Regions from separate parts of the Homo sapiens genome. Here all the other regions are linked to region 2. The links come from fine-mapping of genetic effects on gene expression. A gene starts in region 2. Each other region holds a variant in brackets. All regions are shown on one strand. Distances are between the middles of the regions. Region 1 overlaps ALCAM (activated leukocyte cell adhesion molecule). Region 2 holds the start of ALCAM (activated leukocyte cell adhesion molecule). Region 3 has its middle 250 kb from the start of ALCAM. Region 4 overlaps ALCAM (activated leukocyte cell adhesion molecule). Region 5 overlaps ALCAM (activated leukocyte cell adhesion molecule). Region 6 overlaps LOC105374020 (a long non-coding RNA gene). Region 7 has its middle 230 kb from the start of ALCAM.

What was found. PIP is the estimated chance that this variant, and not a neighbour inherited with it, causes the effect.
Region 1: its variant is the best candidate, but not a certain one, in a credible set for the expression of ALCAM in blood mononuclear cells (TOPMed, PIP 0.67).
Region 3: its variant is the best candidate, but not a certain one, in a credible set for the expression of ALCAM in atrial appendage (GTEx, PIP 0.56).
Region 4: its variant is the best candidate, but not a certain one, in a credible set for the expression of ALCAM in whole blood (INTERVAL, PIP 0.72).
Region 5: its variant is the best candidate, but not a certain one, in a credible set for the expression of ALCAM in whole blood (INTERVAL, PIP 0.88).
Region 6: its variant is the best candidate, but not a certain one, in a credible set for the expression of ALCAM in tibial nerve (GTEx, PIP 0.62).
Region 7: its variant is the best candidate, but not a certain one, in a credible set for the expression of ALCAM in whole blood (INTERVAL, PIP 0.71).

What each region holds. Positions count from the first base shown.
Region 1 is chr3:105,503,119-105,507,188 of GRCh38, forward strand. The region is part of intron 1 of ALCAM (activated leukocyte cell adhesion molecule); the gene reads left to right. Among named protein-coding and RNA genes, the nearest start is that of ALCAM, 140 kb to the left of the region's middle. RefSeq lists enhancers at 1,012-1,542, 1,543-2,073. The variant G/A (reference allele first, on the strand shown) is at 2,185.
Region 2 is chr3:105,364,925-105,368,994 of GRCh38, forward strand. ALCAM (activated leukocyte cell adhesion molecule) reads left to right here and starts at 1,985. Exons shown (of 16, transcript NM_001627.4): 1 at 1,985-2,557. The coding sequence starts at 2,485. RefSeq lists silencers at 1,930-2,029, 2,360-2,479 and enhancers at 3,510-3,669, 4,006-4,070.
Region 3 is chr3:105,611,621-105,615,690 of GRCh38, forward strand. No RefSeq gene overlaps it. Among named protein-coding and RNA genes, the nearest start is that of ALCAM, 250 kb to the left of the region's middle. The variant G/T (reference allele first, on the strand shown) is at 1,885.
Region 4 is chr3:105,395,834-105,399,903 of GRCh38, forward strand. All of the region lies in intron 1 of ALCAM (activated leukocyte cell adhesion molecule), which reads left to right. Among named protein-coding and RNA genes, the nearest start is that of ALCAM, 31 kb to the left of the region's middle. The variant A/G (reference allele first, on the strand shown) is at 1,687.
Region 5 is chr3:105,497,905-105,501,974 of GRCh38, forward strand. All of the region lies in intron 1 of ALCAM (activated leukocyte cell adhesion molecule), which reads left to right. Among named protein-coding and RNA genes, the nearest start is that of ALCAM, 130 kb to the left of the region's middle. The variant C/CCA (reference allele first, on the strand shown) is at 2,256.
Region 6 is chr3:104,372,253-104,376,322 of GRCh38, forward strand. All of the region lies in intron 1 of LOC105374020 (a long non-coding RNA gene), which reads right to left. Among named protein-coding and RNA genes, the nearest start is that of MIR548AB, 850 kb to the left of the region's middle. The variant A/T (reference allele first, on the strand shown) is at 1,978.
Region 7 is chr3:105,138,359-105,142,428 of GRCh38, forward strand. No RefSeq gene overlaps it. Among named protein-coding and RNA genes, the nearest start is that of ALCAM, 230 kb to the right of the region's middle. The variant G/A (reference allele first, on the strand shown) is at 2,093.

The DNA of each region.
Region 1 (4,070 bases), 140 kb after region 2:
AAGGGCTCGCGTGTGTTAAAGCCAAAATGCATTTTGCATTAACAATTTGCGTTTAGAAATCCAAGCACCTAACACCACCAGAGTTAATATTTGCTTTGGACTCTTCTACTTATTTAGTCTCAAGCTTTTCCAAAGAGCTAACACAAAAAGACAGCTTTCCTATTTGCCTAGTGAGTGTGTGATTTCACACATAGTGTATGATATGCTTCTACAGAGACTTGGTATTAGCTGTTTTTCATGTGAGCTGTGTACTTAGTTATGTTGGGAAATGTGAACTTTGTAGTTGAAAAATGCAGCAAACTGACTGAGGCTCATATCGATTCTACTTTAGAAATGTCTCCTGTCTCCTTTTCACTGTGCCTCTTTTTCATTCCCACTGCCCTATTTCACTATGAGTACATAACCTAAACACTTTAACACGATTACCTTCCCCGAGTCCCTTCTCCAGCTAGTTTGCCTTCATACTGCTGCCATAATTTTCAATAGCAAAAATCTGACCACTTCACTGCCATCCTTAAAATGAACCAAAAATCCTTTTGTTGACTCCACATTCTTTACAGAATAAAGTCCAAATTGTTTAAGCTATTATTTAAGGCTTTCAAAGTATCACCCCATTGCTTCTTTCCCAGGTGCCTTTCCTTCCATCACCTCCTACAGCCCCTAAACCTCAGCCACACTGGCTGAACATGATTATACCCTTGCTCCAGCCTTTCTCTTGCAAGGAGTTTCCTTCATCCTTCTTTCCACTTGAAGAAATTCTTATCTGTGATGATTCAGTATAAATGTCCATTCCAGGCAAAGCCTTCTCCAGCCTATTCATCAATCCCTCCTCTGCTCCTGCAACATTTGGCATATAATCTCCATTATTCCAATAAATAAAAGCCAAAGAGACATAATAACTTTCAGCACTCGTTGTATGAAAAGCACTTTTTTAAAGCAACTTATACTTATTAATTTAGTATATTCATGATAACACTATGAGCATGATACTATTAAAAGGGGGAAAGTTCCCTTGTCCCCCTCACAGGGCATGCGACAGGGGTAGTGGCTCGCTTCTTCAGTGCCCCACTGCTCAAACCTCTAGGGAGCACACAGACGGGCAGGTTATGGGGCAGGTTATGGAGCTCCGACCCTATCGCAGTGTCTTGTGCTCTTTTAGTTTCGCCGTCTATAGGCGGCTTGTGTTAACCAGCTTAATTAGACCTTCTACGTTGTCACAAGGACAGAGGGCTTTCTGTATCTCGGGTTCTTGCCTTGGTGTACCGGAAGAATCAGATCACGTATGGGCTTGGAGAATGAGTGCAAGCTTTTATTTAGTGGAGGTAGCTCTCAGCAGATGGGGGAAGCCAGAAGGAGGATGAAGTGGGAAGGTTTTCTCCTGGAGTCTGGCCACTCAGCGGCCTAGCCTCTCCTTCAGCTGCCCCCGCCAACTCCGCGTCTGTTTCTGCAAGCCCACGGCCTGCCGGCCTGCTGGTGCCTGTCAATACATACCTCTTGACGTCCAGCTGCTCGTTTGTTCCCCCCACCTTCCCCCCGCCGATGTGCTGCTCCTCCAGACGACCACCTGTGTGTCTCTGCCTGCTAGGGTCTCAGGGTTTTTGTAGGCCCAGGATGGGGGCATGGCAGGCCAGGGTGGTCTTGGGAAATGCAACATTTGGGCAGGAAAACAAAAATGCCTGTCTTCACCTAGGTGTGGGGACACAGGCCTGGGGGTGGAGCCCTAGCCAGGGACCACGTCCCCCTCTACCCAGCTCTTCCCTTCCCCCTTCTGTATCATTTAAAGGGACCACGCTCTTCCCTACCCAGCACTTCCCTTCCATATCACTATCATTGTCCTCAATTTTACAGCTGGGAAACATTAGTGCATATTGGCTAAGTAACTCACTAGAAGTCACCTAGCTTATTAGTAGCAGAGCTGGATTCATCCTTACCAGGTCTGAGGCCAGAAACAATGCCTTAATTGCTACACTCTGCTGCTAATTATGTTTCATTTCTGTCTTCTAGATTTTTATCTCCTTGGAAGAGGTAGCTTATTTATATGTATATGTTGTATTAGACCGTCCTCTCATTGCTATAAAGAACTACCCGAGACTGAGTAATTTATAAAGAAAAGAGGTTTAATTGACTCAGTTCCACCAGCTGTACAGGGAACACAGCTGAGGAGGCCTCAGGAAACTTGCAATC[G/A]TGGCGGAAGGTGAAGAGGAACCAGGGACATCTTACATGGCCAGAGAAGGAGGAAGAGAGTGATGAGGAAGCTGCCACAGGCTTTTAAACCACCAGCTCTTATGAGAAGGCACTATCTTGAGAACAACAAGGGGGAAATCCACGCCCATAATCCAGTCACCTCCTACCAGGCCCCTCTTCCAGCATTGGGGATTATAATTAGACATGAGATTTGTGCAGGAACACAAATCCAAATCATATCATATGCCCAGCAGGAGTATAGTATCTGGACATTTTAGCCAATCAATAGCTTTATGTCCAATTTATCTGAATTAATACGAATCAGAGCCTTTTAGATTAAGGAAATTTTATTTTTAAAAATAAAAATATTTTCACAGAAAAACATTCTTAGAAAAAATATTGAAGACTGTTTGGCACAGATCAGTAATAAATAACTTATTAAATTCTAATCAGATGTTTAGCATATATCTTTTACAGTCTTTGGATTATATCAACAATATTAGATAAAGATATAACCTACACTATTCTTCAGATATATTTAATTTTTTTCATTTTCAAAAGATTTTATTGGCTTTCCCACAGAAATCATTATAAATATTCTCATAGCTACAAAGGCTTTAGAACAAATAGAAAATTTCCATAACTTTATCTTTCTGAAGTATAATTGTGTTGAAGTATGATCAGCGATTTTTATTGATCTTATGTGTTTACCTTGGTGACTGTTAAATAAGATTTTGTATTGGAAATTTTCTTTGTTGAACAGCTCCCTGTTTTTAAAATTAGAAACACAAATTTATGGATTTCTACATAACAAACTCTCTAAAATGATACTCTTTACCTAAGAAGTATGTAATATATGCCTGTTAATTAAACATGTACTAATAGTTATATTTGCATGTTGAGGCTTCCTGCAATTCACAAAACATAAAGAAAATGTTTTAAATTGATTCTAGGGGTGGTGTTCTTATTAGCTGTTGTAAATACACAGAGAGGTAGAATTGTAGCTGAAGAACACACACTTATAGCATATTTTTGTAGGACTCAGGTGGGAATGAACTTGAAAATTACCATTGGATTTTCAGACAGTAATACAAAGTATTTCAGTCTTTTCCATGTGGTTTGTTTGTTTGGTTTCCAATTAATTACTTCCTGGGGGAAGCATTGGGAGTTGTTTCAGTTATAGATTCATAACAAAATGAGATTCATAAACTAAATACATGATATAATCTGAAGCCCTGCTAGGACTCTTACAGCTCGTCTTTATAACCTAGTATTCCTTTAATGAGTAGGAACAGTGAACTTTTTTTTAAACCCAAATGACACTATTGTCTTTAAAAGCTGTTAAAAATAGCAGAGCCAAAGACGTAATATTATAATATTCAGTTAGGGGAATTTTGAGTGTCATTATCTCCCTAAGCAGTAACCATGAACAAATTATCAAAGCCATTGTCTCTTTTAAAATGGAAAGATGAACCAAATGTATTAGCACCTCAGTGGGATTGGGAATATGTGAAAAACATAATCATAAAACAGCAATTGCTAAGCCTCTACTCAAGACACTCTTGTTCATCAGAGGTTTTGGTGCTGTTGGAAAGTCAGCACCTGCTGAAATCTGCCTGGGGATTCAGCTGCCTAGACTGGAATCACCTCTGCTAATGGATGCCAAAGCTTTGCCCTTGAAGATGTTTGTGTCCTTCCCTCTCCCTATACCAGTGGAATTTAGATGAGACTGTCTAAATGTAGAATATATTGCATAGGCTGAAGAAATTGTGTGTATCACTTGTTTTTAATTAATAGACTATTTTTATCTGTTCTTAGTTTATGGAAAAATTTGAGTGGAAAGTAAAGAGCTCCTATATAGGCCCGCAATTCCCTGCCTCCCCACC
Region 2 (4,070 bases):
TTTTTACAAGAAAGGAGACTGAAGCTTAAAGAGGTTAAGTGAGTTGACCAAGATCATACAGTTAGTGTCAGAGCCCAAATCAGTCTTCCTTTTGCAAATCTACCTTTAAGCAATTATGCTGTATTAACTCCCATCGTAAAATAGAGGAGATCAGATAGAGCGTTCGCGGACCTAGGTTAAATATATTGTCAGGTCGATTTATTCTAATACACCCCACTTACAACCACAGTGAAAAAGAAAACAATTCCCTAAAGCAATTCTACAGGAGTCCATGGAAATGCTAGCATTTCAGCCAAGCTTAGCTCAAGGAATATAGAGTTAAAAGGCATTTGCCTCCTAGCGATAGCCTTCCTGTTGATTCATAAGATGCAAATGAAATGTTAATGTTTAAACCAAGTGGGAGAAACTACTTATTTTGAGAGGAAAAAAATATGGTATAAAAGCTCTACTCTAGAATATTGTTAATGTAAGGAGAACTGGAAGAACAGGACAAGCAGGCTTTTGAGAAAAATCACAGCTGAAGATAGGGCTTAATAGTTTAGAGCACTAAAAGATAAACAATTTTAAAAATCAGTGTGTGAGTGTGTGTGTGTGTGTGTGTGTCTGTGTGTTGCGAGTCTCCAATCTCGCTGGTAACTCGCAGTTTTCTGATGAAAGTGCAGTATGTAACGATTACTAGTTGGCATCCTCTGCTGGAGACCAGTCTCACAAAAGGGTGACCCTGTGATGCACGAAAGGCTATTTAATGCCCCAGCGAAGTGCTTCAGGGACCAAGATTTTATTATTCTTTGGTGATGAGAGTTGTGATCCTGCATCCCTGATTTAGAGCCACTTAGGGCTCCGACAGCTCCACCCCGGTGTTCTAGAGGAAAATCTTCCTTCATGCTCTCTGCCTGATTTGAAAGCAACACAGCTTCCCGATGTTCCTCCTGGGAGGTGGTTCAATCTTTAGAAATTGCCTAAGAAGCCTGTCCATCTGCTGGAGTGCCTGGCTTTCGGGAACGGACCAAGACGGACTTGGCTTTTAATCTGAAATAATTTGAGGATTTTCTGTCTATAACTTAAAATCACCGCTTAACTCAAAGTAAAAAAGTGACACGCTCTCTAGAGGGCTTTTGTAGACATTGGGAAAATCCGTATGACGAAGTACGGTTTAGAAATTCCGGATTTAATTTCCCCCGGGAAAAGCAAATATCTTCTGTTGGTACCGGGCAGTCGACTCACGTAGTCTTCCTTTAAAACCAAGTCTATGCCAGCCGGGTGTGAGGGGAGTGGTGGGGGTGAGCAGGGGGAGGAGAGAGATTCGAAAAGTACAGGAGGAATCAGTCCAGTACAGGGGTTGCCCCTGCCAACAAGTAGCTATTCCTGTTAACTCCCAAGAAGCAAGTTTCCACCTTTGCCACTTCCTCCTGCCCTTTCCTTTCCTTTTCCCTTCACTCCCGCTCTTGGACCCAAGGTTCGCTCCCCACCGCCACCGCCCTGCCCCACTATTCTCTTTACAGGACAGAAGGCTGCAGCAGCACGGCGGAGAAAAATCTCTGAGGAATGAGTCAGTGGGATGGGCGTATGGGTGGAGGGAGAGGGCAGTCGATTTTTAAACCTCAGCGAGGGTGGGTGGGCAGTTGGAAGCCAGAGGCCTTATCACTGGGGCGCTGCAACATCACAGAAAGTGTTAGTCCCAGGGCTCTCCCTGGCGCGCGCGGCTCCTGTGCTTGCTTCTTATTGGCGGACCTGGCCCTGGGGGCGGAGCCGCGGTGAAGCACCGCTCATCCGGGCTCCAGGACCGGGGCACGCGGTTCTCCCTGATCCCGGAGCTGGGCTCAGGGCTCGGACTCAGTCCTGCAGCGCCTCTAGGCTGCGGATCCGCGCTTCAACCACCTGCTTTGCGCTGCGTCCGGGGAAGTGGGGAGGAGACGGGAGGGAGGGAGGAGGCGGGGAGAGGAGGAAAGAGGCAGCTTACACACGCCTTCCAGTCCCTCTACTCAGAGCAGCCCGGAGACCGCTGCCGCCGCTGCCGCTGCTACCACCGCTGCCACCTGAGGAGACCCGCCGCCCCCCCGTCGCCGCCTCCTGCGAGTCCTTCTTAGCACCTGGCGTTTCATGCACATTGCCACTGCCATTATTATTATCATTCCAATACAAGGAAAATAAAAGAAGATACCAGCGAAAAGAACCGCTTACACCTTTCCGAATTACTCAAGTGTCTCCTGGAAACAGAGGGTCGTTGTCCCCGGAGGAGCAGCCGAAGGGCCCGTGGGCTGGTGTTGACCGGGAGGGAGGAGGAGTTGGGGGCATTGCGTGGTGGAAAGTTGCGTGCGGCAGAGAACCGAAGGTGCAGCGCCACAGCCCAGGGGACGGTGTGTCTGGGAGAAGACGCTGCCCCTGCGTCGGGACCCGCCAGCGCGCGGGCACCGCGGGGCCCGGGACGACGCCCCCTCCTGCGGCGTGGACTCCGTCAGTGGCCCACCAAGAAGGAGGAGGAATATGGAATCCAAGGGGGCCAGTTCCTGCCGTCTGCTCTTCTGCCTCTTGATCTCCGCCACCGTCTTCAGGCCAGGTGAGCAAGGGCCTGGGAGCAGCCCCAGACAGACGTGGGCCTGGAGCAGTTTCCTAGGTCCCCGTCCCAGCCTCGCACCCCCGAGGCAGTGCGCCCAGGCGCGTGGTGGAGGTAAGGGGACCGCTGTCCTGGCACAGAGCTGTCCCCGGGCTCGGTCACCTGTGCCGCACGTTTGGGCTTGGCTGGTTAGCTCAAGTTTGGGCATCAAGCTGGGGAAACTGGGTGAATCTCCAGGAACTTGGTGCTCCGGGGTGGGCAGGATTCGCCTGACGCTCTCCCCTTGTCCCTGCGGCTCCCAGCTAGGCGGCGGACTCTTGCCCTCTGACAGTTCCTCCTGTCTCTGGGTATCCAAGTCCACGTCACTGCGCCCCGAGCAGTTTTTCTTTCGCTTAGTTCTCGGATGAAATAACTGCCGGCACTTTTTCGTGATAAATCCCCTAGTAACTTCCCCTTGGTGAGCCGAGGAAGGGATGGGAGGGGTAGAGAAGGAGAGGACTTTAATCACCTCCCCCCGCCCCCCTTGCGAAACCTGCTAAAGCTTAAAATCGTGGTTTCAACGTTACCCCCTGCGGTCCCCGTCCATTGTCTGGGCGGGTGGTGAGTGAAAGGGTGACCGCAGGCAGATAACACAGCCAGAACAGGAATTAGTAGGTAGGCCTGGGAGACACCTCAGTGAGAGGTTTGTGAATTTCCAGGACCTGCTCATAGAGCCTCAGTTCTCAGTTCTGTACTGAGTCTTGGAAGAGAGAGAGAGAGAGAGAGAGAGAGAGAGAGAGAGAGAGAAAAGGCAAAATTCCCAACAACTAAAATATCTCTCGGGAAATCCCTTTCCACACCCTCGGGGACGTCCCCTGGCCCTGGTATCCTCAGGCCCGCCTGGCGGCTGACACAAGTTGTTCTAACAGGGTATTCCGTGCGCTCACAGTTGCCTGACAGAGCAGCAGGTTCCTTTGCTCCCCTAAACTGAAAATTTAGGGGATTTTTTTTTCTTTGAAGTTTTTTTTTTCTATCCCTGCGTAGACAGTTGCCAGTTAAACTCCTACTTCCTGGTATTTTGGCCTGTTTGTTCTTAGCTTTTTCTTTAGCTTTTATCAAAGAAAAATCTCACTTCCTTTTATCCGTGCACATCCCTTCAGCTGTCGGCAAGCTCAGGTCACAGAAGAGGTTTGAAAGCCTCTGAATCTCTCCCAGGAACTGGCGGGGAGAGGGGTTTGGGGGCCAGAGCCTGAGGAAGAGATTACAAGTGTTTGCGAGCTGCTGCTGCTGCTGCCGTTGCTGTGTGTGTGGGCGGGAGGAGTGCCCTCTCCAGATCTCTTTATTAAAGTTACATTTCTGGGTGAGGTAATGAGCTCACCTGATGTTTCTGAGGCTGAGGGAAAAAAAAGGCGTCTGCGTTCTCTGACAAATCTCGGGCTCTGGGGCGGGGACTGTGAAACCATAGTTCAACCGGATTTAAAGCAGGTGTCCTAGTGTAACAACGCTGGGGAGGTAGGTGGAAAGGCGAGACCCCCTT
Region 3 (4,070 bases), 250 kb after region 2:
CTAGGGTTTTTAAGGATAATTCGGTGGGCAGAAGGCTAGGGAATAGGTGCTGTTAATTGGTTGGGGATGAAATTACAGGAATGTTCATATTATTTTGGCACGCTGACTCTATTTCTAGATAAGGGTTACAGGACTGGTTGAACCGGTTCCTTGGTATGACTTACTGGTCTGAGTAGAGTCAGTCGGTTGCCAGAATGCAAAAGTCTGAAAAATATCTCAAAGACCAATCTTAGGTTGTGACAATAGTGATGTTATCTATCTGAACAATAGGGGAAGTTGCAAATCATATGACCTCTGATGTAGCAAACAATTATAGAAAGGCAAGCTAGGGAACAATGGCTGGTTATCATTGAACTATGCATACATCTTAGCAGAATTCAGGCCCCTCCCATAACCCTAACCTCATGGCCTTTTATAAGTCTTACAAAGTTGGTTTTGGTCCCCAAGCAAGGAGGGGGTTAGTTTTGGGAAGGGACTGTTATCCTCTTTGTTTTAAAGTTAACAAATGCAGTTAGCTTGTCAGGTTAGAAGCAAGAATCTAAATCAGTTTGGATTTGCCTCACTGTTATAATTTTGCAAAGACAGTTTCAACTAAAGTTGCTTCTAAGCATTACTGAATATGTTGATTGTCTTTAATTACTATTTTAAGTTACAACTTTGAAATTTGCTTTTGAAAGAATAAATATAATTCAACTGTAAAAGAAAATATTCGGTACTGGCAAATAAAAATGTAATAATAGAAACATATATAAAATATAATTTTAAAAGAAGTTTCAGCTTGCTTATTTGCATATCATCTCACTCCAATTTTTAAATAAATATGCTGTGATTAATAGCAATAACCTTCTAAAGTACTCTGAAATCAGAAAATCCTTAGGAGAAAAGAGCCATAGTAATAAAAGTGTCATTATAAATAATTAGATATGCTTGTCACACATCCACCTTCAAAGGTTTCTACAAAGTGATTGACATGTAAGCCACCTGGATTAATCTTCCAGCTTCAATTTAGTTTCTACAAGAATCTAGTTATCCTTTGGAGAGTGAAACTCTCAGAAGAAAACCAGGAGAACAAAGCCCGTGACTGTTTGGGAGGGCTCAGGTTTTCCTAAACACAAGCACATGAATTGGTCTTTGCAAGTTTGCATTTCAGAAATAATTGAGACAGCAGGGGAAATCATGCTCCACATTATCTCCAAGTGGAACAGCCTGCTATTCAGAGTTCTTCTCTGGCCAGGCAGAGGAATAATTCTACAACAGAGGTACCCAAGAACATGCTCAGCCTCCACAGGCTACATGCTTCCCCTATCTATTCCCAGCCCCATCTCTGGAGAAACAGATCTTCCTTTTGATCAGGCAATATTCACAAATGACAGTGACAAATCAGGAAATTTTAAAGGAAGGGCTGAGTAAATAAAGACAACAGGAGAACTTTAGCTGTGGCTTTATAGTAACCGCTGTCCTAGATTTTGTCCTCTCTGTGGACTGATTGCACAGCATCTACCTTCACTTGGCTTACAAAAGGCTTCTGTGCTCCTTAGTGGCTGGAATACATGCTCTCGCTGTTCTCAATGGAGCTTCCAGGTTACTCAGCAGCTCTGTGATTTACAAGGCCCCCTGGGTGCCCTGGATCTGGTTAACTCCCAATTCCTTTACTCCAGGAATGAATATTTTCTGTGCTAACAGATAGAACAACTTGCCAGCTTAAAATTAGCTCCTCTTGAGTATAATGCATTGTGGTGTGACAACACCCAGCCAGCCCTGACTCCCCTGCTTCTCTCAGGCTTCTAAGCAGCTGGTTGGCTGAGCAGCCAGGCAGAAGGCCCATCTTCTCATCCCATTGTAATCTCTCACCAGGCCTAATCAGGTGCTTTGAGCCCAGTGGGT[G/T]CCAGGAAACGTTCTTGTTTGTCAAGCTGCCTACGTTCTTACACAAGGTGGGAACATAGTGTGGCCCCTTCCTCCCCAGGGAGGCTCCATTCTTCCCATGTCCCACTACCACACACAGAGACACAACTGGAGAAGTGTCCACTGTCGCTTGCTCACCATTTGCCTTTCTCTATGACAGAGCTAGTTGAGGACAGAATCTAGCAATTAAAAAAAAAGGTAGCAATTTAAAAAAATAGGAAAATGTGCAAAAAGTTCAGAGTAAGAGTTTTTAATAGAAGGTGTATCCAGAAGACAGATGAAGCAAGTCTGTATGTGTAAAAGTTTTCTGAGTATTGCAAAGTATTGAGCATCAAGCATGTGCTAGACATTTTCTATTACGCATTCAATTAAGCTTCAATAATTCTTTCTACCAGTGTGCTTTACTATCTCCATTTCACAGTTGAGACAACTGAGGCTAAACTGATGTAGGTCCCATGACAATAAGGGCCATAATGTACTGTAAAACCCATGCCCATACTCCCAAGGTTATTCTGCCTCTTTGAAGGACTAGTAAAGGACTCACATTAGTATTCACTTACAATCTCATGAAACACCTGGGTGGGAGATAGAATATGAAGGAATTGTGGGAAGAGATTAAAAGCCATGCAATAGCTTAAATCCAGAATGACTGGAAAACATCCTGGAAGAAATTCTGCAAAACAAATTTAAGAATATAATTGGCTTTAAAGATAAACATAAAAATTAGGACATTTTGGGTATGCAGTGATAATGACTCGACTTTGCAGGGCTGTGTAAGCATATAAAATTGCTGGAAATGGTGTAGTCAGGGAGTGATTACATTTGTATCCATCTAGGACCATATTCTGAATTGGCTGACAGCATTGGTTCACCCACTTTATTTGGGTTTCCTCATTCCTCCAGAGAAATGGTCAGCTGACTGTGGGCAATAAAGCATCACTATCTGCTAACAGCACATTCCAGGGAACACTTGTGTGGCAGTCAACAGCAACTGCTGCTTGGAAAGAGATAACATGTTTCCATCAATCACTCAGAGGAGGAAATGATGTCTGGGGCTACAGCCCACTTATTCAAGTGTGGCATCCTCTTGTCTAGAGTGAAGACTCTCATAGTGGAGGTTTAGAAGGAAATGGCAAAAGTATTGACATTTGTTAATCACCTATTACTTCCTAGACACATTGCATTAATTACTTACAGCAATCCTATGAGGTAAATATTACTGTCCCATTTTACAGATAAAGAAATGGACATTCAGGGAGGTTAGGTAAGTTAGCCAAACTCTTGTTGTGGTCAGTAAGTGGCTTTCAAACCCATGCTGGTCTAATTCCAAGATCAGCTCCTTTCAGTATACTATAGCTGACTCATTAGGCATAAATGTTAATATCTAATTATATAATACTTTGGAGCCAGACACAGTAGTATTAGTAGTAAAAAGAGAAGGACAAGAAGGATGAGGAGGATAATAAGGACTAGGATGAGGAGGAGCAGCAGCAGCAGGCATTTTTGTGAGATTTCCATGTGCTAGGCACTTTATAAAGATTGGCTCATTTAATAATCAATACAACAAAATGAGGTAAATATTTGTACTCTGATTCAAGATGTGAAAAACTTTGTCCTTCTTTTCCTTGGGACTAGAGAGAGAGAGAGAGAAAGAGAGAGAGAGTGTGTGTGTGTTTCAGGTAGGAGGAATACTGATGACTGCTTGGACAGTCGTCTGGTGTTGATAGTGATGAAATAAATCTTACGAGCTCTGGTCTCCATCTTTGAAACTAAACAACAGGAGGGCATATTTTTAACGAAAATTTGGGATGACAGTGAAGCCATGGATCTTTTTCAACTTGGCGTATCTTGCTTGAGCATTTTTCCACTCCATTGGGTAGAGCCATCATATGGGACATTGATAGCCAGTTGAGTCTACACGCATCATGGTCCTGATCATTTTCTCCTACATAGTGAGCTACATCCATTAATCTAAGAATATTATTTATTACTACAGACTATTTCTTATTTATTACTATAGATTATTATTTAGTTATATTAGTCTTATGTATATACTTTAAAGTGCATATATTCTTGAGGGCCATTTTGCAAATAAACAGTACTCATGCAGGATATCCCTATAAGTATTGGTATGGACAAGTATATATTACAAAACCCAGGGAAATATG
Region 4 (4,070 bases), 31 kb after region 2:
TCTCTCTTTCTGAAGACTATCCCATTTTGATTCTAAGGCCATATGGCAGCCCATGTCTCCTGGATTGAGTTCTCCTCCATTTAATAAACATAGTTTGCCTAGTTCTGAATTCACAGGGCAAGGTTTCTGATTGGCTTAGCTTGGGTCAGGTGTCCATTTAGGACCAGTCAACTAACATTGGAGGAGGGGAATTTGATAGGTTTCTGTGCAATTTCAAGAAGCCTTGGGATGTGCTAATAAAGTAGACTGGGCAAGCACAATAATAACTGCCTACTATAGCATTTTTTGCTTAATTAAATTAATATTTATTAGACACTCATCATAAGCAAGTTATAACCGTGGTGCTGAATAAATGAGTAAAATACTGTATCTATATTCAACAATTCAAGGATGTGGCTGCTGTGCAAATCATTGGAGTACAGTGAAGACAGAGAATGGAGCTTAGTGATGATCATAAGGAGAGAAATAGGAGGTTTAGGAGCTAGGAGGTATGATCTTCCTGAGAATCTTTGAAATAGAAGAGACCTGAATATCTGTGGGAGCCAAAAGGAAAGAAGGATCAGACTCAAAGGGCAAAACTGAACTTGGAAAAGCACAGGGATTGATTGGGCAATGTCTCAAATCTGGAGAAAGAGACAAAACTGAGAAACGGGACAAGATTACTAGAAACTTACTGGACTTCTTCCTAAAAGGTAGAAACAAAGGATGAACAAAAGCATTAGTACAAATTGAGTTTTTAAGTAGAATTAATTTCTAGTAGATTTAATGAAGTTTTGGACATTCTTCAGCAATATCTACTATCTAACAGTAAAAATATTGTGGAACCATAGCTTCCCTACTGCCCAGTCCTCTGTCTGTCCTTGATGTTCATGGTGTCAGCGATTATTGGGATGGTTAACTCTGCAAGTAGTATTTAGGAAAAAGTGATTGCCCTCTTAAAGGTTACCATACCTTTCCAAAGACCATAGCCTCTGGATTCATTTCTTAGCAGTTTTATAGTTCCTTTGTTAAATGTTAGCATGTGAGATAGTAATTTTTCATAAAAAGCATATGTATACTTTTAGGTGGCATGAAAGTGTTAACTATCTGTGGACTTTTATCCAATTTCAGCTTATGGTGACAGGTTTCCTATTGTAGATGAATTGAATTAATTTTTCAAAATAACCTTTTTTTGCGAGGCTATATCAATTGGTGTGCTACAGTTAAAATGTATTACTTTGCCTATTTCCCATTTTCTACTAAAGTTTATAATTCACACAAAGAAATACAATAAAGTGTGTCTCCTGAAATTGTGCTTTGTGAAATGATGAGGCCATTACTCTGCCTTTTGAGATTAATAAATTTTTCTCTTGGCATTTGTTCCCTTATCTAACTGGCAATGTGAGTTTAAGCTTTACAGATAAATATTATACTATTGTTTTAAGTTTTGATTTTTGTTTATTCCTTATAAACATTACTTTTGAAAAATAAAGTGTATCTTCTGCAAGTTGTACACATGTATATATGAAGTAAACTTAGTCAAAGTGCTTGAGTTGCTTTGTAATTCAAAATTATGTAAGTACATTATGTTATGTTGAATAACAAAAAGTGATAACTCTAAGTTTAAATGGGTGACTAAATTTAAAAAATAATTTATACCAAGTATAGAGATAATAGATTTAAACATATCAATTTAAACTTATAGCT[A/G]TCACTTCTTGTTATTTAACATAACATAATATATTCATGAATAGGTAGTAGATTCCATTTTTCATGATCAAGCTTTCCTCAAATAACCCTCCCTCCAATTTTCAATAACAACGAAACACAACAAATTAACCACTCATCCAGAAATTCTAAACTATTTACGTATAATGATTGTCACATACCTTTTTAAAGAACACTTTGTTTTCCAAATATAATTTGACTAAATGCAAATAAGAACTGAACCAATAAAATGAAGCTTTTAAAAAAATTGAACTTCTGTTTGATAAATGGAATTATTTATTTGACAACACTAAAAATATGTAAAATAATGCTTTAGAATATCATTTTAAATCCACTTTTTAATAAAAGCTTTCTTAACTAATTAATTCAACAAATATTTGTTGAGTGACTACCATGGGTTAGCTACTGTGTTAAGTTGGATGCTAGGGATGCAGTGATAAAGAAAACATGGTCCTATGAAGCTTTTGTTTTGGTGGAATGGTGGTTCTTAAACTTGCACGTGCCTCTCAATCACCTGGAGAGTTTGTTAAAACATAGGTTGTTGGGCTTGACATCTACAGTTTCAGATTCAGTATTTCTGAAGTGGGGTTCCAAATTTGCATTTCTAACAAGGTCCCATATGTTGCTGATGTTGCCAGTCCTGGGACCACACTTTGAGAACAGCTGTCCTAGAGGAGGCAGTGCTGTCTATATACCAAAACTTCAATTAGCCTATGCTGTGCTGACCCATGCATGCCCACTGCAGCTCCCCCTCTTTCATTTTTTTTCAGAAGAAAAAATGCTTTCTGTAAATACAATCTGGTATGTGGATAGTGCACAAATTATATAGTTGCTTCTTAAATTACTGAGAAATTTACGAGGTCAAGTAAATATAATTTTCAGAGATAATGCTACCTTATTTAGCCTAGTGAAAATGTATCATCAGTATTATGGCCTGATTTTCAATTTAATCATCACTTTATTTTAACATAAAGCTTTTCTTTCTGATCTTTTGGTAGCCATCCAGTTTTCCATAGTCTTTTAAATGTGATGGCCAGTGGTTCATTTATTGCAATAATTAAGATGGATAGCAGCATGCCAGCTGGAATGACTACACTTGTGTTTATTGTATAAATTATTTCCTTAGTATAAAAGCCTCTTTTATGGCTTTTGCTTTGGTCATATCTTTTGTACCCTAAACCATTAACCATAGCATGTTTAGGAGAGCCATTTATAAAGAAGCTGGTAATATTTACCAATTTCTAATCACCATTAATTCATGTCTACATTTTTCTTAGCACTGGAGATTGCTTGTTGCTTTGTTCCTTCTGCCAAGAGCAAGAAAAAAAAAGTGTTCTAACCCTTCTAGGACTCATAAGCTTTTTTTTTTCCTTTTCTTCCTTTTCTTTGATTTTTTTTTACTACATTCACACTTCTTTTATTTTGTTCTACTCTCATCTCTTTTCCTTGTGAATCTTAAGTTACTTTGGTTAGTTTACTCAAAATACATAGAAATGCAGCCCCTAATGTGAATTTCTTATAAGGCATATTTGAAATTCCTTTAAAACACAGACTGCAACTGATTTTTGTCATTTTTTTAAAATGCTACTTGAGTTTGGTGGTCTTTTGCATTTCAAAAATAATTGCATTTCAGTTTTAACAGAAATTATTCAGATATAGTTCAGACACTGATCATTTCTGTATGCATCATCGTACCCAGCAAATTTCAGTAAATATTTGCTGACCTATTTTTTTTCTTTACACTTTAGTTTCAAGGAAATTGCATGCCTGTTACCTTTCTAAAAGCTAGTGCAGTGATTGTTGGTATATTTACAATACTCATCTTTCCTTTTAAACTTTGTAAGTTTGAAAGTATAAATCAAAATGTCATATTACATCAGAATATAAATTTTATTATTACCCATATATCAAATAACTAGTTAAAGCAATTCAGAGTAGTTAAGAGGGAATATTTAGTGGCAATAAATGTATATTGTTGCATATAAATACACATATTAGGCCTAGATTTATTGTCTACAATTCTTTTAATTTCTTATCAGATTTCAGTATGAAAAAAAGTGAATGAAATAAGCAAAAGACTATATCCAGTTACTGTAACTAATGCTAATTTCATAATCTCTTAATGGTTTAATGTTATATCCTGATGGTTTTATGTTTTTTGACCAATCTTTCAGGCTATCCTTTTCTGACCACTCAAACCATGAAAACCTGCCCTCCCTGGAAAATCCAAGAGCCAGTCAGTTCCCACAAAGACAACAAGAGCCACTCTGTTTGGAAAACTTTGGCTCTTTTTCAGCAGTCACCATTGGCCTTAGAATACAGAGCATTCTTACCCACTGGCTAAGATTAACTTGGTTAGCAGACAG
Region 5 (4,070 bases), 130 kb after region 2:
CCTGTAGTCCCAGCTACTCGGGAGGCTGAGGCAGGATAATGGTGTGAACCTGGGAGGCGGAGCTTGCAGTGAGCCAAGATCACACCACTGCACTCAAGCCTGGGCGACAGAGCGAGACTCTGCCTCAAAAAAAAAAAAAAAGGGGGGAAATTGGACTATCCTTTGTGAAGCACCCACCATGTTCCAGGTTACTGATATCGTACATTCATTATCGACTTAATGCTGAAAGATAAGTGTGATTGTCCCTGCTTTACAGTTTGTGAAGTAGGGAGGTGTAGTGGTTAAATATATTCAAAGTCATATGGCTAGGAAGTCTGGTGTCAGGGTTCAAAACCAGGACGTTTGAGTTTCAAATTGCTGGGTTTTTTCCTCCACTCTTTATAGTATTCTGCTTCTGTATTCTGTAGTTTCTGGTCACACAAAACACAATGTAAAATGTCAGCATAAGTGGGAAGTTTTCTAAAAAGTAAATGTGTGAATAATGTGCTAAGAAATTCAGGACCCAGGTCTCAACACTACATAGAGAAGAATAATGACATTTGTCTTGAGTTTGGTATCCTTGACACCACCATGTTTTGTCTGTTAGCCTGCCAAATGTGTGTGTGTGTGTGTGTGTTTTAATCATCTTTCTCTTTATTAGTATAATATAATTTTACCTGCCTTGATATCATGTAGGCATAAGGTATTAGTCTTGTTCCATTTGTAAAGATTCCAGGAGTGTTCTGCTTTTTATAACACTTCAAAGTTTTGTGCTTGGAGCTCCACTATCCAAGAGAGGCAAATGGCTGTTAAGGAATCTAGTAAAACATTCCAATATAAAAACCTTCAGGGGCACATGGTGATCCATTAATAAAACAGAAATTCAAATGAAAACTTTAGTTTAACAATTAAGATGATCCTGACTCCTTGCTAAATTCCCATTGTCTTATGGGATACAAGAATGCAATATGAGATATTGTACAATGCCTTTAGTATTTTTTCTAATAGATTTAGTTCCATCACGAACTGCTAAAACAGTGTGAGAAAATTCTTGAAGAAGTTATATAAATATTAATGTATTTCAGAGTTTTGCTTATTGTATTGATATATGTTCAAAATGATGTATTTTTTCAGCAATACAAAGGATATAACTTATCTCACCTTTCTTTAGGCAAATGAATGACAACAAATTACAATAGTACAATATCACTAGATATCTTCTAAGTTCAGTGATTAAAATGTACCTACTAAAGAGAAATAATACTTTAATCACTGTAAAAACCCAAGCAAAGTAGAATTTTTCAAAGCCCTGTGGAGTGGCAACCCTATATCTTTAATATCTAAGAACTAGAAAATAATTTTAAATATACATATGTTTTATATTCCTTAAGAGCAAGTGACTTTAGGTGAGAGGAGACCAAAACTTAAGTGAATTACCATTTAAAGCAAAAGATCAAACTAGAATGTTAAATTGTAGCAAAAAAGGAAGAAATTATGTGACTCTTTCATACTATAATATTACCAGTTTGGAAAATAGGCCTAGTAATAAAGTTTGTTTTACTAATTCTTTCTAAATTCCAGGCCAAAAATATCATGTAACTTTAACATGGCTTTCATTTCCAGTCATGTACAGAAGAGTCCTTTAATCTTATCTTGCTAAAGAAAAGAAATATTTTTTGCCTTAAAACTGTATTCTATAAATCAGTTCATGTCTGTCTTTCTACATACAAATTAATTTCTGTTTGTTGATTAAAATCTGCTGGGGCGGAGAGGTAGCTGTTTGATGTAATTGGTCTATCAAGTTTAAATGCAAATGATTAAGTAGGGTAAACATTAGCAGGGATGGCAAACAGAACCAAAAGCATTTTCTCATGGTACTCTGCTGGAAAGCTGATGTGATTTCTAGACAGAACAGACAGCTTACCCAAAACTATCTAAGTACAAATATGGCTACCTCTTTCTTCTACATTCTCTCTCACCTGTTCCAATTAGCTGTAGGAATCCTCAGGGAGAACTGCATTTCACAATTAGATTTTAGAATTGCCGTACCCTTAATAAATACGGGAGCCTTTAATGTAATATCTGCTATCTTTTCTTATTTCAATTTACCTCACCTAACAACCACTTTGTTTTCAGAGCCTCTTTGTAGAAGGTCAGTGTGCAGTAGATTGGCTTTGTTCACAGACTACACAGGATCCTCACTGGAGGTTTTGTTTAGAGCTCATATCAGTTAATGTCTCCCAAATTATTTCTTAAGTGTTACACTTGATTTACCA[C/CCA]CAGTTTCCACATTATTTCACAATACAAAAACTCACAAAAAATTACCATACTTTCTTCATATTAATACGACAAAGAATGATGAACTTTTCCTGTAAGCCTGCCTGCCTTCTTCTTCCTTCCTCTTTTCTCATCTCCTTCCTAGCTTCTTTCACTCACCATCTCTTCTTTTTTCCCTTTTCTTTCTTTTTTTCTTAGGATTCTGTATTTTTACGATGCAAGCTCTGTTTGTGGTGGGTGTTTAGATGACATTAAAAGATCTCTCTTTTAAAATATTTCCTTTCCAACTTCAGCAACTATGGAGAAAATGCTGATACAATATTTAAAATTTAATATACGAAAGTTAATTTTCTATTACATACTCCATTGCATGTTATAGTAATGCACTTGAAATATATTATCTCCATTTCATATCACCATGCCAAACTTACAAAAATTCAGTATCTTTAAAATACCAAGACTATTTAGAACAAATACATGATGTGGTGTTCATAAAAACAATATTGGATTAAGAGTCACAAGAGTCATTTCCTTAACTTGGTTCTATCTTCAACACTTTAAATTCTCTGGTCCTTAGCTTCTTTAGTTACAGGATGAGTGACTGCAATAAATTATCTCTAAGGTCACTTATCATTTCAAATGTACATCTTGGAATCACTAAACATTTCCTTATAAAAGGGCAATAACAGAAATATTTCCTACAGCTGGAGTCTTCTTATCTGCCAACCTCAACCATTCAGAGCCCAGCTCTGCAGGAAACACCCAGGTTTTGAGCAGTCAAAATAAATGCTGATGTCCATGAACCAAACTTTATTCACAAGGAAACTCCTTGGGCCCCTCTCACAGAGACTGTTTACTCTTTACATTGAATCTCTTTTAAAGTTTGATTATGTTGTTTTCAAAGGCCTGGCATGTTAGTGGCAAACTGGAAAGGGACTATGAGACAATCACAGAAGGGAGCAATAAATGGGCGAGTGCTTCGAAGGCTCTGAGGTGCTGCACAAATGCGGGCTGTTATCATTAGCGAGAGTGACTGACAACTGACAGGAATAGTGAGAGAAAAGATAAATCATTGTAAACAAAGCACAGGAATTTCAAAATACTGTTTGGGGTGGGGCTGTTTAGTATATTGGCAAGTCGGTTGAAACAGTTCAGTAATTCCTGAAAGTCTCACTGAATTATAGCATAGTATGTGCTTATAGAAATAACAGTTATCAAGGAGATGTTTATTTACATTCTGAATAATATTTGGTTTAACAGATAGTGTAACTGGAAAGTGAAATCTTAAGCACTATATAATGGTATTTTGACATGTAATTTTATTTGACATCAGAAGAGTATGCAAGATGCTCCAGATGTTCCAAATATTCTCCATCTAAAATAATTTAAAAATAAAAATCTATAAGGTATAAGAATCTAGATTTCAAATACCTAGAAAATAATATCTGAGTGATCTTGAATACATAAAATATTACTTTAATTTTGAAATGTAGTTTATTTTTCTTATCCATAATGGTAGTAATTAAGATGAATAATATTAATTCATTTTGTTCCCTATTTAAATGAAACAGTACTATGCCTGAATCAGAATTTCCTGCATGCAGCATGGCTTCTAAGCTCACAAGCTTATTATGAGAGTAGTATTGGAAAGATATAAAGCATAGTGCCTGCCAATACTTAAAACATATTACATGCTGAGGCAATGCAATAAAAATGTTTAATAATTCTTAAGTGATAGTGGCAACCAATCTAAAGCAAACTCAAGTTACAGTTGAAAACACTTATCAATTGATATAGAGTTAGAAACCAAAATCAAA
Region 6 (4,070 bases), 990 kb before region 2:
GCCTCAGATATTCTAGTCTTTTATTATTACGTTTCCATCTGTACTTCAGTTTGTACAATTTGTATCATTCTTATTTCATTTAAATATTTATTTTGCTTTGTCCAGTCTATTTCCAACTAAGATTGTTTATAAAGATATTGTATTTGTTTCTTTAACGTTTCCATTAGAATCATTTATTTAGGGATATCTTTCCTTTTTTGAATGTCCCCATTTTTCACCCATTTTTTCCTGTTTTCCTATAAACTATTTTAAACTCTCCAATTGTTATATTAAAGTCCCTGTCAGTTAATATCAATATCTGTGCCATCTATAAGTCTACTCAGCTTAACTGCATTTATTTTACTTCTGATTGGAAGTCCTATTTGCCTCTTTTTATAATAAGTAGCTAATTTATTGCATATAGATGTTACAAATGATATGTTATAAAAACTGGATTGCATTATCTTCTCTTATAGATTATTGAGTTGTTCTGGGGGGAATTTCTATTACTGTTAGATTACTTTGATCCTGTCTTAACTTAGTTTTAGGTTGGGGAGGTGGTTCTGTTTCAGTTGTGTTTTCAGAATTTATGTGCAAAACTTTTTTATAGAATATGATTTTTATTTTTACATTTTTTTCTGGTTGATGAAAGCTCGAAATTCAAATATCTTCTCAGTCATTTACCTCAAAAATATGCTTAATTCTCAGATGTTACCTGCTAATGATTACATAATCCTGTTCTTTAAATGTGTAGTTTAGGATTCAGTCAAAGACCAAAGAGCTCCACTACACAGATTTCTTAATCTTCTCCACTGCAAGCCCTTCCCATTGGGTGCTGTTCCCCACAAAAAAAGCTACCACTTTGTCACCTTTTTGATCTGTTTGTTTTGCCCAACAAGATTGCTGCTGCCTGTTAAAGCTATACTTTTAAGGGTTAGAAATGACGCCAACCAGAAGCCAGTTGATGATATGTGCAGAGCTCACCTTTGAGCCATCCCTTCTTCAAGTTTCAGAGCCCTTTGCTGTCTGTTTTCTAATAAACGAAAAGAGTTCCTCAAAAGGTTTGTTGAGTTTTAGAATTGTCCAGAGTAGTAAGGTAAGTCCAATACCAGCTCTGTGGTTCACAGACAAACCCAGAAGTTAACATGAATTTATTTTTAAAATACCATTTTATGTAGATTGTAGTGATTCTCCTATCAGCTGCAGAAAGTTTACTGTGGTTGTTTTTTATTGTTTCTAGTGAACTTTATTGTCATTTTTTATCATGACTAATATGTTTTCATTACTTTAAAAAATACTGGACTTTGTAATTTTAAAAGTCCATTGATTTTTTTTCGTGAAAAATAGCAATTTTTGTTTTCTCTTTTTCTGGGTATCATTTTTGTTGTTGCTGTTACTTTATCCTCAGGAGTTAAGTTCAATTAAAAATATTGCCCAAAGGCCAAAATTAACAAATGAGATCTAAATAAACTAAAGAGCTTCTGCGTAGCAAAAGAGACTATCATCAGAGTGAACAGGCAACCTAGAGAATGGGAGAAAATTTTTGCAATCTATCCATCTGACAAAGGGCTAATATCCAGAATCTACAAGAAATTTAAACAAATTTACAAGAAAAAAACAAATAACCCCATCGAAAAGTGAGCAAAGGATATGAACAGACACTTCTCAAAAGAAGACATTTATGTGGCCAACAAACATGAAAAAAAGCTCATCATCACTGGTCATCAGAGAAATGCAAATCAAAACCACAATGAGATACCATCTCACACCAGTTAGAATGGTGATCATTAAAAAGTCAGGAAACAACAGATGCTGGAGAGGATGTGGAGAAATAGGAATGCTTTTACACTGTTGGTGGGAGTGTAAATTAGTTCAATCTTTGTGGAAGACAGTGTGGAAATTCCTCAAGGATCTAGAACCAAAAATACCCTTTGACCCAGCAATCCCACTACTGGGTATATACCCAAAGGATTATAAATTATTCTACTATAAAGACGC[A/T]TGCACACTTATGTTTATTGCAGCACTGTTCACAATAGCAAAGACTTGGAACCAACCCAAATGCCCATCAATGATAGACTGAATAAAGAAAATGTGTCACATATACACCATGGAATACTATGCAGCCATAAAAAAGGATGAGTTCATGTCCTTTGCAAGGATATGGATGTATGAGGCTGGAAACCGCTATTCTCAGCAAACTAACACAGGGGCAGAAAACCAAATACAACATGTTCTCACTCATAAGTGGGAGTTGAACAATGAGAACACACGGACACGGGAAGGGGAACATCACACACCGAGGCCTGTCGGGGGTGAGGGGCTAGAAGAGCGATAGCATTAAAAGAAATACCTACTGTAGATGATGGGTTGATGGGTGCAATAAACCACCATGGCACGTGTATACCTATGTAACAAACCCACACGTTCTTCACATGTATTCCAGAACTTAAAGTATAATATTTTTTTAAAGTTGCCATATTATATTTTAATATTAAATAATTAAACTACATTTATTTTCTTGCCTTGAGCATTATGTAAAATTAGAAGATACTGTGTTCATCTCAATCTCCCATGTCATCAATTTACTCTTAAACTGTATTACTTCTAATTCAAGCATATTTATATAATTCCTTCGAGTTTAATATTCATATTAATATAAACTTTTTAGACTTCTTTGCAAATTTTTGTTGGTTTCAGTATCTATGGCTTTTTCCTTGAAATAATATTTTGATTCCTGAATTCTCTTTTTGTTCATTTATAATTCTACTGTAATATTTTTTCAATTACTGCTTTTCAGAAAGGTCAAATAGATGAACAGTTTATGTCTCAGTGGACTACAAAATATAGTTTTTACCTCACTTATGCAAACTAATTTTACTGCCTAAGAAATGCTTGAGTCACATTGTTTTTAAAAATTTACATTTATCCGTTATTTTATGACATTTATAGTTATGGAGAACAACACTGACTCCAGAGTTGTTCATCACGAACAAAGCGAATGCTAAAACCAGCCTGCTTTTGTTTTGTTTTAATGGGCTAGTTGTTTTCTTTCTATTTTATTTTATTAGATTTTATCTTTATCTTTGAAATTTATGAATGTTATAAAATATGTCATAGCATACATTCCTATAATACATAATACAGTTACTTGTGGATTCCATTTGTTTTGAAGCCTAAATCTTTTATTCTATTTATATATTTTTAATGAAACTGTTTATAAAGAGGTCATTGTAGAGTCCCCTATACTTACAAGAAATCATACAAAAAGATCTCATATATCGTTTATCTAATTTCCCCCAAAAGTAATATGCAAAGCTATAGTACAGTACCACAACCAGAATGTCAACACTGATGCAATCCTCTAATCTTACATAGATTTCCCAGTTTTGTTTGTACTCATTTGTGTGTGTGCACATGCATGAGTCTAGTTCTGTACAATTTTGTCACATGTGCACACTCATGTCTCCATCACCAGCCAAGAAACAAAACAGATCCATAACCAGAGAGAGCCCTGATATTGTCCTTTTAAAATCATATGCATCTAGCTCTCCAGCTCCATCAACATTCCGAACCCCTGATTATCACTATTCTCTAGTTTTAAAATTGTGTCTTTTAAAAAATTTAATATACATGGAACCATATAGTATATAATTTTTTGGAGTTGTCTTCTTTTTCACGCACCACAATTTTCTGGAAATTATATTTCACTGTGTTATTACTCCTATTCCAACTTTTCTGTTTCTCATTCCAATGTTTTCTTGTACCTGTGTGTGCTGTACTTTATGTCTCTTCTCTTTTCTTTTCTGGAACCAGAGTCATCAGATCTTTTTGAGTTTTGAGATTCTCGAATATAAATGCATATTAAATAATTTGGATTTTTGTCAAATATGTGCAATTGTTACTACTTCTAACACATCTTAAAATTCTATAAACAATGTTGTTCTCTCATAAAAAAGTTCTTCTGTTAAGAAATTTTTAGCTAGATCCTCCTTCATAGAAGCAATATTTTCTTGTGCATCAATAAAAATACCAGTTTAAGTGTATTTCAGAAATTCACCTATACAAGAACTATTTTCTCTAATTATTTACAT
Region 7 (4,070 bases), 230 kb before region 2:
TGGCCCAAGTAAAGTATAGCAAGGGCTTTGCTTTCACAGCATGCCCAGGAAGAACATACAGGGATGCTTAAGGCCCCTTGTAGATTGCTTCTTTGAACAATGATCCTGAAGAGATAAGCAAATTGAGGACAGGAAAAATCTTGAATTTAGCAAAATGGAGATCATTGTTAACCTTATTAAGAGCTGTTTTGTCAGAGTGATGTAATGTAAAAACATACTACAGTGGGCTGAAAAGTGAATGTGAGGCCAGGCGCAGTGGCTCACGCCTATAATCCCAGCACTTTGGGAGGCTGAAGCAGGTGGATCACAAGGTCAGGAGTTCAAGACCATCCTGGCCAACATGGTGAAACCCTGTCTCTACTAAAAATACAAAATTAGTTGGGTGTGGTGGCGTGTGCCTGTAATCCCAGCTACTTAGGAGGCTGAGGCAGGAGAACGGTTTGAACCCGAGAGGTGGAGGTTGCAGTGAGCTGAGATTGTGCCACGTGCACTCCAGCCTGGGCAATAAGAGCAAAACTCCATCTCAAACAAACAAACAAAAAAAAGTTTTTGCCAAAAAAAAAAAAAAAGAAAAGAAAAGAAAAAAGAAAAGTGAATGTGGGATATGAGAGAGAATAGAGACCACAAACATAGAATAGTTGCTTTTTTTTTTTTTTTTTTTAAGAAGTGCAATTGTAAGGTGATAAAAATAGAAATATCTTTAGGTGGGATATTGAAATGAGAGAAGATATTTTTGTTAGTCATTGGGTTATGTTTAAAAACTAATGGAAATGATCAAATGAAATGGTCTACAAACATCAGAATATAAATGGCTATTATATGTTCATTAACCCTGGATATGACATTGTTATAGATTGAATTGTGTTCTCTCAAAAGACAAAAAAAAGGATGTTTAAGCCCTAATCCCCAAAGTGCTACAAATGTGACCTTATTTGGAAGTAGGATCTTTGAAGATGATCAAGTTATAATGAAGTCATTACAGTTGGCCCTTATCTAATGTGACTATATCCTTATGAAAGGGGAATTTTGGACACAAAGACAGACATACAGAGAGGATGCTGTGAAGACACTGGAAGCCAAGGAACCCCTGAGGCTACCAGAAGCTTGGAGAGAGTGATGAAACTCACAGCCCTCTGAAGGAACCAACGCGGTTGACATCTTGATTTCAGACTTCTAGCTTCCAGAACTGTGCAAGAATACATTTTTGTAGTTTAAGCCACCCTGTTTGTGACACTTCGTTACAGCAACCCTAAGAAGCTTATACTACAGACATTGTTCTCAGAAAGACCAAATACTGATAACAAGAAATAAAAAAGCAAGCCTTAAAATCTTTAGAGCAGCCTTTATTTCACTGCACTTCCGCAGGACATTGATCACAGCAAATTTTTTTTTTTTAACAGGGTCTGACTCTGTTGCCCGGGCTGGAGTGCAGTGGCATGATCTTGGCTCACTGCAACCTCTGCCTCCCAGGTTCAAGCGATTCTCCTGCCTCAGCCTCCCAAGTAGCTGAGATTACAGACGTGCACCATCATGCCCGGCTAATTTTTTGAATTTTTAGTATAGACGGGGTTTCACCATGTTGGCCGGGCTGGTTTTGAACTCCTGACCTCAAGTGATCTGTCCGCCTTGGCCTCATAAAGTGCTAGGATTACAGGCGTGAGCCACCACGCCCGGCTGCAAATGTCTTTTTTCAGGAGTGTATAATGTTGAGAGCACTACTTAAATGTTCATTCTTAGAAAAACCTCAAAAAGGGAAGTAAAAGAAGAGGGAATAAAAACTCTTTAAGAAAATATTCTCTTAGCAAAATGAGAATTCAATATGTTAGCCTAATTAATAGATATTCCATTATCAAACACTTTGCATTTGTTAATAAAATACTTCAAAAGAAAATGGGAAATACAATTTCTTTTAAGTATATAAGAAAATGATTAGAATGGTAGAGTGGCTTTGTGAAATGGTCTAAGCTGATTTGTAGAGCAGGAAGCTTAAGCAATGGTTCCTCCAGACTTTAAAAAAAATTACCTAACCACTATGGTTTTACATCTTCTCATCTGCACATAAAGAGTTCTATTAGATTACTTCCCCCAGAAT[G/A]ACTATGGGAATTATTTTAACAACATATGTTTCTAGTATAAGTGTCTGTTCTTGTGTAAATTGAATGTAACACCTAACTGAGGCATTCTTGATGTTGAAATTATTTCTGTTTACTTACCAGTAATGTTTGTTCTTATAGTTATATATAATTCGTATTCTTTTAACACAGATTCCAAGCTTTTTCATACTTTTTTAAATTCCAGTTTCCCTGAGAATGTATTTTGGGGTCTACCTTGGATGCCCTCTTTAATTCTTTCAGAGGTAATGTTCATGCATTCACATGGGTCCTGCTTATAGCTCATTAAAGGAAGCACACATCTGCACCTACTGCCTAACAAAGACTCTCCAGTGGGCCAACTAGAGTCAATCTTCCAGAAGTTTAATGTAGATCAGGTTCTACAATCTCTGGCTCCAAAACATTTTCTCTATTTTATAGTAATATTGATAACTATTATTGTTATTACTTTGAGGAAGTGAAAATATCTCATACTTCTGCTGGCTAAAGAGTCTTTGAAATATTTCCGCAATGCCTACAGGGTTAGATATTAATAAGCTTCTACTTGTAACAAAATTGAGACACAAGTTAAAGACTCTGACCACGTGATCAGAGAAATATTCCAGCAACATCAAAGGTAAACAGGACTCTCACAGATAAGCCAAAAGGACACATAATTATTTGAGCAAATGGAGAAGAACAATTTGTTCAAGTTGTTGAAGTCATTTCAGATTATTGCCAAGAATTCTCAGAATATCCTCTGAATGTATACTTCTGTGCTGAAAACAAAACCACATGCTCATAGGAAATGTCACAATTAAGAATCTTGTTTACCTAGCTGTTTAAAAAAACATGCCAGGGTAGGCAATGAAGGTTACATCCTCACTGTGCAGGTCAGTGCTTATCAAATCAAAATGGTTCAACCACCTAAAAAAAAAAATCTTCATACAAAGGACGAAATAGCAGGCATACCAGCCTAGCTTTGCACGCTGGCTATGTGCACACTGTACCTCCAAAAACAGCCTCTGGTCATAATAGTTCTGGAAATATGTTGTGGCTTTTTTCAAGATAAATAAAACATGAAAAGTGAATTTGTTTATAAAAATAAACCCATCTTAACTTTTCATTTATACTAGCATGCTTTTATATGATGGCTTGCCCTTCAAAAAATTGGAGCTTACCTTGAAGATCTCTGCAATATCAAGGTCTTAAGTTCCTAAGAGTAAGTTTTATCTTTGTTATTATTATCATTTAAAAGCTATTCAGTGTATTAGCAACTAGAGATGTAATTATCTTACATCTCTAGTTGCATACACAAACTTTCAGTATAAGTTTATAGTCTCTATTAAATTGTTTTAATTATATGCATTTGAGTATAAATAAAAACATAGAAACTTATCTAAATATTTTTCCCCCTGTATCAGCAGCTAGGCTTTGAGGTCAGGGAGAGAAAGGAGTGATATTCTATATGAAAAATAATCAAGATACTTTGAAAAAAAACTTTTCTCAGTTCAGTACCCTAGAGATTACATTTAATGTTCTTTCTTAAATTTAACTCTCTATGAAATTGAGAGATTAAAGTACTATGTCTAGTATCAGTTATTTTCTAATAGCCCAGCACATTCTCAAGAGAAAAACATACTATTAAAATTATAAAGGATATTTATAATGTTTATTTTAAAATGGTTAATGCTCCTTTTAAATGCATGATTTTTAATACTTAATTGTGTTTATTTTTACTATAAATATACTCTATTAGTTTGTTCTCACACTGCTAAAAAAGACATACCTGAGACAGAGTAATTTATATAGGAAAGAGGTTTAATTGACTGACAGTTCAGCATGGCTGAGGAGGCCTCAGTAAACTTACAATCATGGTGGAAAGGGAAGCAAACATATCCTTCTTCACATGGCAGCAGCAAGGAGAAGTGCCAAGCAAAAGAGGGGAAAGCTCATCAGATCTTATAAAACATCATATCTCAC